Homo sapiens: one gene and its partner. The protein of the gene in region 1 purifies or fractionates together with the protein of each later gene. This does not show direct contact. Each region holds a gene or a part of one and is shown on either strand. Other genes may lie near its edges.

Region 1 (5,198 bases):
ACCTGGGGACGAAAAGTAAGGCTTTGACCTCAGAAAATGAACATACAGGAAAAATAATGTGTCCTAATGTGTCCTAATGAAATTTCTCTAGTATTCACATGTTATAAAATGTTAGGAAGAAAGAAGATGTGTCCTCCTACAAGCCATAAATCAGAATTCTAATAATCTAAAGCTAATTAGAAAAATATTACATGTTAAATATTAAATATTAGAATAGAAAAATGTATGAGGGAAAAAAATTGAGACACAGCTGAATTTTTCAGGCTGTTCCAGCACTAAAAAAAAAATACAGGAGAAGAATGTCACATATTTTCCTCTTCCTCCCCCTCCAGATTCCATAATATCAAATTCATAACTTTTCATTTGCGCATGCCTTATTTTCCATTCCTTGTTTGTCACTAATCCTGTTAGTAAAAGGATTCCCCCACCTATGTTCATAATTAAGTTTTGGTCTAAAAAGAACTACAAACAGAAGCACAGTTCCCTAGATTTCTAATTTTTTTTTATTTTATCACAGCCAGTTAACTTATTACATTGGATACTTAAACACATAGTACCATAAACTGGATGTGGTCTTGTAGCCGCCAGATCTTCAGTTTTGACTTTGGCCCAATTCTCCTAGAAGTACTTAATTTTAATTCATTTTATTACCTAACGTCCTATTAATAATCCCGTTGGTTTCAAAGTATATTCTTAGGTTTCACAAGAGGCTGAAATTTGGTCTTAGGGGTTGTCACTTAAAAATAACTAATGTAATTTTTGGCCGGGCACGGTGGCTCATGCCTGTAGTCTCAGCACTTTGGGAGGCCAAGGCTGGCAGATCACGAGGTCAGGAGTTCGAGACCAGCCTCACCAATATGGTGAAACCCCATCTCTACTAAAAGTAGAAAAATTAGCCAGGCACGGTGGCGGGCGCCTGTAATCCCAGCTACTCAGGAGGCTGAGGCAGGAGAATCACTTGACCCCAGGAGGCAGAGGTTGCAGTGAGCCAATATCGCCCACTACACTCCAGCCTGGGCGACAGAGGGAGACTCCATCCAAAAAAAAAAAAAAGAAAAAAAAATGTCATTTTTAATTGTATTGTTTCAGGGCGTTTTAGAGTATTTGTTTTTCAGTGTTAGCTTTGTTTGTGTTTCCCCCCTCCCCTTTTCCCTGATTTTCTTTTCAGACGTCTTTTTACAAGGGAAACGGTTCCACGAAGCCTTGGAAAGCATACTTTCACCCCAGGAAACCTTAAAAGAGAGAGATGAAAATCTCCTCAAGTCTGGTTACATTGAAAGTGTCCAGCATATTCTGAAAGATGTCAGTGGAGTGCGAGCTCTTGAAAGTGCTGTTCAACATGAAACCTTAAACTATATAGGTCTGCTGGACTGTGTGGCTGAGTATCAGTAAGTATGAGATTGGAGGTGAATTAATACAGCGTAGGACAGATGGTGCCTGTCAAAGGTGTGCCTGTAGGTACTGTAGCCTCTGTCTGTTTAATGTCCAGACCTTTGTGCTAGGTAAAAGAATTGGGTGGGGCGGGGTTGAGAACAGGTACAAGGAGAAGAGCCACGTAACCTTTGTCATCCAGTACTCCAAAATCAAATTGTTTGCTGGAGAAAGGTATATTCTTTGTTTGTTTGTTTTGTTTTGAGACGGAGTGTCACCCAAGCTGGAGTGCAGTGGTGCAATCTTGGCTCACTGCAACCTCCGTCTCCCAGGTTCAAGCGGTTCTCCTGCCTCAGCCTCCTGAGTAGCTGGGACTACAGGCATGCACCACCGCACCTGGCTAATTTTTGTATTTTTAGTAGAGACAGGGTTTCACCATGTTGGCCAGGCTGGTCTCAAACTCCCGACCTCAAGTGATCCATCCACCTTGGTTTCCCAAAGTGCTGGGATTACAGGCGTGAGCCACTGCACCTGGCCGAGATTTTTCAATCTCCCTAACATGGCCTGTTTGCCAGCCTGTCCTTCCCCTCCCCCAAAGCAAGGTACCTGCCATAAGATCCAATTTCATTCCTGCGTTTTCTTTCCTGTTTTTCTAAAGATAGCACCATGATCTGTTGGTTCTGAAAATCAACTCTTCCTGGCTTCCAGGCAGTGCTTGACATGGATCAGAGATCTGAACTTACTAAAGCTTCCCATGGTTGTTTTGTTTTGTTTTGTTTCGTTTTGTTTTTTGAGACGGAGTTTTGCTCTTGTTGCCCAGGCTGGAGTGCAGTGGTGCGATTTCAGCTCACTGCAACCTCCATCTCCTAGGTTCAAGCTATTATCTTGCCTCAGCCTCCCAAGTAGCTGGGATTACAGGCATGCGCCACCATGTGTGGCTGATTTTGTATTTTTAGTAGAGATGGGGTTTCTCCATGTTGGTCAGGCTGGTCTCGAACTTCGGACCTCAGGTGATCCGCCTGCCTCAGCCTCCCAAAGTGCTAGGATTGTAGGCATGAGCCACCACGCCCGGTCCCCATGGTTTTTATATCGTAGCTGTCTTACTGTTTTACTCAGGTACTTCAGAGTCCAAGTGTTACAGGAAAGGGGTCCTGATCCAGACCCCGAGAGGGTTCTTCGATCTCGGGCAAGAAAGAATTTAGGTTGAAGGCAGGCACAGTGGCTCACGCCTGTAATCCCAGCACTTTGGGAGGCCGAGGTGGGCAGATCACCTGAGGTCAGGAGTTCAAGACCAGCCTAGCCAACATGGCAAAACTCCGTCTCTACTAAAAATACAAAAATTAGCCAGGCGCAGTGGTGTGTGCCTATAGTCCCAGCTACTCGGGAGTCTGAGGCAGGAGAATCACTTTAACCCGGGAGGCAGAAGTTGCAGTGAACCGAGATGGTGCCACTGCACTCCAGCCTGAGCAACAGGTGAGACTCTGTCTCAAAAAAAAAAAAATAAAAGAAAGAAAAGAAAAAGCATTCAGGATGAGTCTGCAGTGCAAAGTAAAAGCAGGTTTATTAATAAAGTAAAGTAGTGGAAGTATAGCTACTCCATAGACAGAGCAGGGCGTTCCTGAAAGTAAGAGGAGGAACACTTCCACCCTAAGTACAGTGCTCATATATATAAGATAAAAAAAGAGATCTTGGGGAGATGTGCTCTACTGCAAGGGTTTGTGATAAAGGATTAATTTTCTTAATTATTATATTTTGCAAGAATCGATACTATCTTTAAAGCAAAATTAGGAATGCCTTCGTTCTCCAGATATCAGGGTATCTGGACACTCCCAAGTCTGGGTCTGTTTAGTAAACATTATTAATTTGTTCCCTTAACCTTAAACATCTAGAGGCTATGAATGCCTGACTTTCTGGGAATGCAGCCCAGCAAGGCCCAGCCTCACTTTCCTAGCCCTCACTCAAGATGGAGTTGCTCTCGTTCGAACGCCTCTGATACAAAGGTGGCTACAACCTGCAGGTACCCCTAATCCAAATAAGGCAAGCGATCACTAAGAACAAGATAGAAAAATCCGTTCATGTAAACCTTGAAGCTCTAGTTAAAATTTAAGTTTAAAAGCTTGTCTATTCCACAGCCCAATACAAATTCGTAAACTTTCTTAAAACATTATGAGATTTTTTTTTGGTTATTTATTTATTTATTTTTAGTTCATCAGCTATTGTGTGGCCCAAGACAATTCTTCCAATGTGGGCCAGGAAGCCGAAAGAGTGGGCACCCTTGATAGTCTGAAAACTGTTTAGACCACCTAATGGTTTTATTTTTTATTTATTTATTTTTGAGACGGAGTTTCACTCTTGTTGCCCAGGTTGGAGTGCAATGGCGTGATCTTGGCTCACTGTAACCTCTGCCTCCTGGGTTCAAGCGATTCTCCTGCCTCAGCCTCCCAAGTAGCTGGGATTAGAGGTGCACGCCACCACACCCGGCTAATTTTTGTGTTATTAGTAGAGATGGGGTTTCGCCATGTTGGCCAGGCTGGTCTCGAACTCCTGACCTCAGGTGATCCACCCACCTCAGCCTCCCAAAGTGCTGAGATTACAGACGTGAGCCACCGCGCCTGGCCTAGACCACCTAATGGTTTTATAGCACAACTGCGTCATATCTGAGAAGAGCCCTGTATACCAAGAGATTTAATAGACTTTGGTTGCCTTTTAGATAAACCAAGGAAGCCATACAGTCACCTCCACCCAAGGCCTACAAGAAGTTCCTGACACCCAATGCTTGTCATAGAGATGATAAAATATGTCCATAGCACTGTTGTTTGTTTTTTGCTTTTTAAGTCAACATCAACCTTGGTAATATGAACATTTTTGAAACTACGGTTTTTTTTTGTTGTTTTTGTTTTTGTTTTTGAGACAGAGTCTTGCTCTGTCACCCAGACTGGAGTGTGGTGGCCCAATCTCAGTTCACTGCAACCTCTGCCTCCTGGGTTCAAGCAATTCTCCTGTGTCAGCCTCCCCAAGTGGCTAGGACTACAGGCACCCACCACCACGCCTGGCTAATTTTTTGTGTTTTTAGTAGAGATGGGGTTTGGACATGTTGCCCAGGCTGGTCTCGAGCTCCGGGCCTTGAGTGATCTGCCCGCCTCAGCCTCCCAAAGTGCTGGGATTGTAAGTGTGAGCCACTGCACCCAGCCTAGAATTTTTTTTTTTTAAGACACAGTTTTGTTCAGTTGCCCAAGCTGGAGTGCGGTGGCATGATCTCGGCTCACTGCAACGTCCACCTCGCAGGCCCAAGCGATTCTCCCACCTCAGCCTCCTGAGTAGTTGGGACCACAGATGCGAACAACCACGCCCAGCTAATTTTTTTGTATGTTTTGTAGAGATGGGGTTTTGCCATGTTGCTCAGGCTGATCTAGAATTCCTGAACTCAAGCAAGCTGCCTGTCTCCGTCTCCCAAAGTGCTGGGATTTACAGGTGTGAGGCACCGCGCCCAGCTAAGAATTTTTTATTTTTGTTATTTTTTTAATTTTATTTATTTATTTTTTTGAGATGGAGTCTTGCTCTGTCACCCAGGCTGGAGTGCAGTGGCGCGATCTCGGCTCACTGCACGCTCCGCCTCGGGTTCACGCCATTCTCCTACCTCAGCCTCCCCAGCAGCTGGGACTACAGGCGCATGCCACCACGCCCGGCTAATTTTTTTTTTTTTGTATTTTTAGTAGAGACAGGGTTTCACCGTGTTAGCCACAATGGTCTCGATCTCCTGACCTCGTGATCTGCCCGCCTCGGCCTCCCAAAGTGCTGGGATTACAGGTGTGAGCCACCGCACCGGG
Region 2 (3,500 bases), on another chromosome or scaffold:
ACGAGTTTGAGACCAGCCTGGGCAACATGGTGGAACCCCATTTCTACAAGAAATACAAAAATTAGCCGGGCGTGGTGGTGTACGACTGTAGTCCCAGCTACTTGGGAGGCTGAGGTGAAAGGATGGCTTCAGCCTGGGAGGTGGAATTTGCCGTGAGCCAAGATAGTGCTACTGCGCTCCAGCCTGGGCAACAGAGCCAGACCTTGTCTCAAAAAAAATATGAAGAGGTCTGAGGGGCTTGTTTGCCCCTTATATTATGTGAGGACACAGCAAGGTGTCATCTTTGAAGCAGAGAGCAAACCCTCACCAGACCTAGATCTGGTGGCACCTTGATCTTGGACTTCCCAGCCTCTAGAACTGTGAGCAATAAATTTTTGTTGTTCATCAATGACCCAAGCTAAGAGATTTTGTTAGAGCAGCCTGAACGGACTGAAGCAGAGGTCACTCAAGCTGTGCTAGCAGTAAGGACCATGGGAACCTACCAGGGGACTCAGCCAGAGAATCAGAACTCAATTCACGGCCAGGCACAGTGCCTCATGCCTGTAATCCCAGCACTTTGGGAGGCCGAGGCAGGAGGATTGCTTGAGCCCAGGAGTTCAAGGCCAGCCTGGGCAATATAGTGAGACCCTGTCTCTGAAAAAAAAAAACAGTTTTTTTAATTAGCCAGGCATAGTGGTGTGTGACTGGAGTCCCAGCTACTCAGGAGGCTGAGGTGGAAAGATCGCTTGAGCCTGGGAGGCAGAGGCTGCAGTGAGCCGAGATAGTGCCACCACACTCCAGCCTGGGCAACAGAGCAAGACCCTGTCTCAAAAAAGAACTTGATTCACCACAATCACTAGAGTGAGAGAAGGGGAGCCCAGGGGAGGAATGGCGGGAGCCTGGCCTGGGGTGGCAGCTGACGCTGTAGACAAGGGCGGATACCTGGTAGATGGTGACCCTGGCACTAAGGTCAGGCTCCATGTGCCGCAGGCCAAACATGGCCAGCTCCACAGGGTCCTGGGGCAGGTCCCGGGGCACTGGGAAGGGGTTGACGTTCATGAATCGAGGGAACCACAGCTTCAGGCGCACCAACTTGAGCATGGGGTAGCTTTTGCGTCCAAAGATCTGAATCAGCAGGAACTCCGTCTCCTTGTTGGGCATCACACCTGTGCTGGGCAGATGCAGGCAGAACCTCAGAGATGGAGGGGGAGGAGGGAAGGGAAGAGGAGAAAAGAAAACAGTGAAGTGAGGGAATTGATCACAGACAGGGAGAAAAGAATCAGAGAGAATTAGAAAGAAAAAGGCTCATGCCTGTAATCCCAGCACATTGGGAGGCCAAGGGGAGAGGATCACTTGAGTCCAGGAGTTTGAGAGCAGCCTGGGCAACATAGTGAGACCCCATTTCTAAAAGAAAGAGAGAAAGAGAGGAAGGAAGGGAGGGAGAGAGAGGCAGGGAGGAGAGGAGAAGAGAGGAGAGTGGGGGGAGGAGAGGGAGGGAGGGGGGAGGGGAGGGGAGGTCAGAGGGAGGCAAGAAAGAGAGATGAGTGATGAAAAGAGGGATTCGGAGAGGGAGAAGAGCGAGAGAGACAGAGACGGAGCCATGGAGGAAGGAGGGGCTGAGACTCAGGAGAGGTGCTGCCAGCTATCAGTGTAGCCCACTCCCCACCCTGCGCCAGCCTCCTGGCCTCACCGTGGTTCTCCATCTGCTCCAGGACAGCAATCCCACACTCCTGCTGCCGAGGGTAGTGGACGAAGATGCGCTGGATGATGTTGCGAGGCCGGAAGACCTCCTTGGGGAAGATGTTGAGCAGCTGGTTGTACACAGCCAGGTCCCGCTCGACACCATACTCCCGCATCTTGCGCAGGGCCAGGTAGATGAAGTCAATGTGGCCCCGCTTACGCACGCTGTGCTCCGCAAATTTCTGCACCGTCTGCAGGAAGCTCGCCTTGTCCCGTTCCCCACCAGGCGCCTGCCCAAACAGGTCCTCAAAGGGCACCAGAGCCTTGGTGGGCCTCTGCCGGGGTTCCGGTGGGCTGGGAACCAGGGACTGTTCAGAGCTATGGGCAGCTGCGCTGCAGTGGAGGCCCCGAGGGAGCCGGCGAGGGACCTGGGGAGGGAGGAGAACTGCTGGAATCTGGCACCTCTCAGTGTCTATGGGGGGCCGCCAGGCTGGCTCTTTCCTCAGAGAGGTCCCAGTGGCCTCCCTGAGGACTCGGAGGTATGGAACTGTGGTTACAAACCCAAGATTCGAGGCCATTACAAAGTGCGATAAAACACAATGCTGGCACAGTAGGGAGGAAACAGGCACTGTTAGCCATGGCTACGGGGAGCTGGTAAAAACTGCCACGGAGGCAACTTGGTAATATTCACAGTGATGACACACACATGCCGGTTTTTTTTTGGGTTTTTTTTTTTGGTTTTTTTTTGAGACGGGGTCTGGCTCTGTGGCCTAGGCTGGAATGTAGTGGTGCTACTGTGGCTTACTGCAGCTTTCAACTCCTGGGCTCAAGCAATTCTCCTCCTCACCCTGTCCAGCAGCTGGAACTACCGGTGTACACCACCACACCTGGCTAATTTTTAAATTTTCAGCAGAGACGGGAGTCGCACTATTTTGCCCAGGTTGGTCTTGAACGCCTGGCTTCAAGTGATCATCCCGTCTCCACCTCCCAAAGTGTTGGGATTACAGACATGAGCCACTGTGCCTGGTGGCCCTTTTTGCTTGTAATTTTTTTTTTTTTTTTTTAGACAGAGTCTCATTCTGTCACCCATGCTGCAGCGCAGTGGCGTGACCTCAGCCCACTGCAACCTCTGCCTCCCATGTTCAAGCGATTCTCATGCCTCAGCCTCCCAAGTAAGCTGGACTACAGACGTGCTCCACCACGCCCTGCTAATTTTTGTATTTTTAGTAAAGATGGGGTTTCATCATGTTGGCCAGGCTGGTCTCAAACTCCAGGCCTCAAGTGATCCACCTGCCTCAGCCTCCCCAAGTCTTTTTTTTTTTTTTTTTGAGACAGAGTCTCGCTTTGTCACCCAGGCTGGAGTGCAGTGGCGCGATCTCGGCTCATTGCAAGCTCCACCTCCCGGGTTCACGCCATTCTCCTGCCTCAGCCTCCTGAGTAGCTGGGACTACAGGCGCCTGCCACCACGCCCAGCTAATTTTTTGGATTTTTAGTAGAGACGGGGTTTCACTGTGTTAGTCAGGATGGTCTCGATCTCCTGACCTCGTGATCCGCCCGCCTTGGCCTCCCAAGTGCTGGGATTACAGGCATGAGCCACCGCGCCCGGCGTAGCCACCTTAAGTCTTGAGATTACAGGCATGAGCCACTGTACCCAGCCCCTTCTTTCTTTTTCTTTTTTTCTTGAGACAGAGTTTCACTCGTCGCCCAGGCTGGAATGCAATGGTGTCATCTCAGCTCACTGCAACCTCTGCCTTGTGGGTTCAAGCGATTCTCCTGCCTCAGCCTCCCAAGTAGCTAGGATTACAGGCGCCTGCCACCATGCCCAGCTAATTTTTATGTTT

Evidence for each region. The genes of interacting proteins can lie anywhere in the genome.
Region 2: the proteins of MGME1 (region 1) and ECSIT purify together in Homo sapiens (affinity purification with mass spectrometry; 4 studies listed by BioGRID and IntAct, with this or other methods). This does not show direct contact.

What each region holds. Positions count from the first base shown.
Region 1 is NC_000020.11:17,974,516-17,979,713, forward strand, and holds part of MGME1 (mitochondrial genome maintenance exonuclease 1 isoform 2 precursor), read left to right. Parts: intron 1-1,168; coding exon 1,169-1,388; intron 1,389-5,198. UniProt on the Homo sapiens protein: Metal-dependent single-stranded DNA (ssDNA) exonuclease involved in mitochondrial genome maintenance. Has preference for 5'-3' exonuclease activity but is also capable of endonuclease activity on linear substrates.
Region 2 is NC_000019.10:11,512,135-11,515,634, forward strand, and holds part of ECSIT (evolutionarily conserved signaling intermediate in Toll pathway, mitochondrial isoform 1 precursor), read right to left. Parts: intron 2,088-3,500; coding exon 1,670-2,087; intron 1,146-1,669; coding exon 922-1,145; intron 1-921.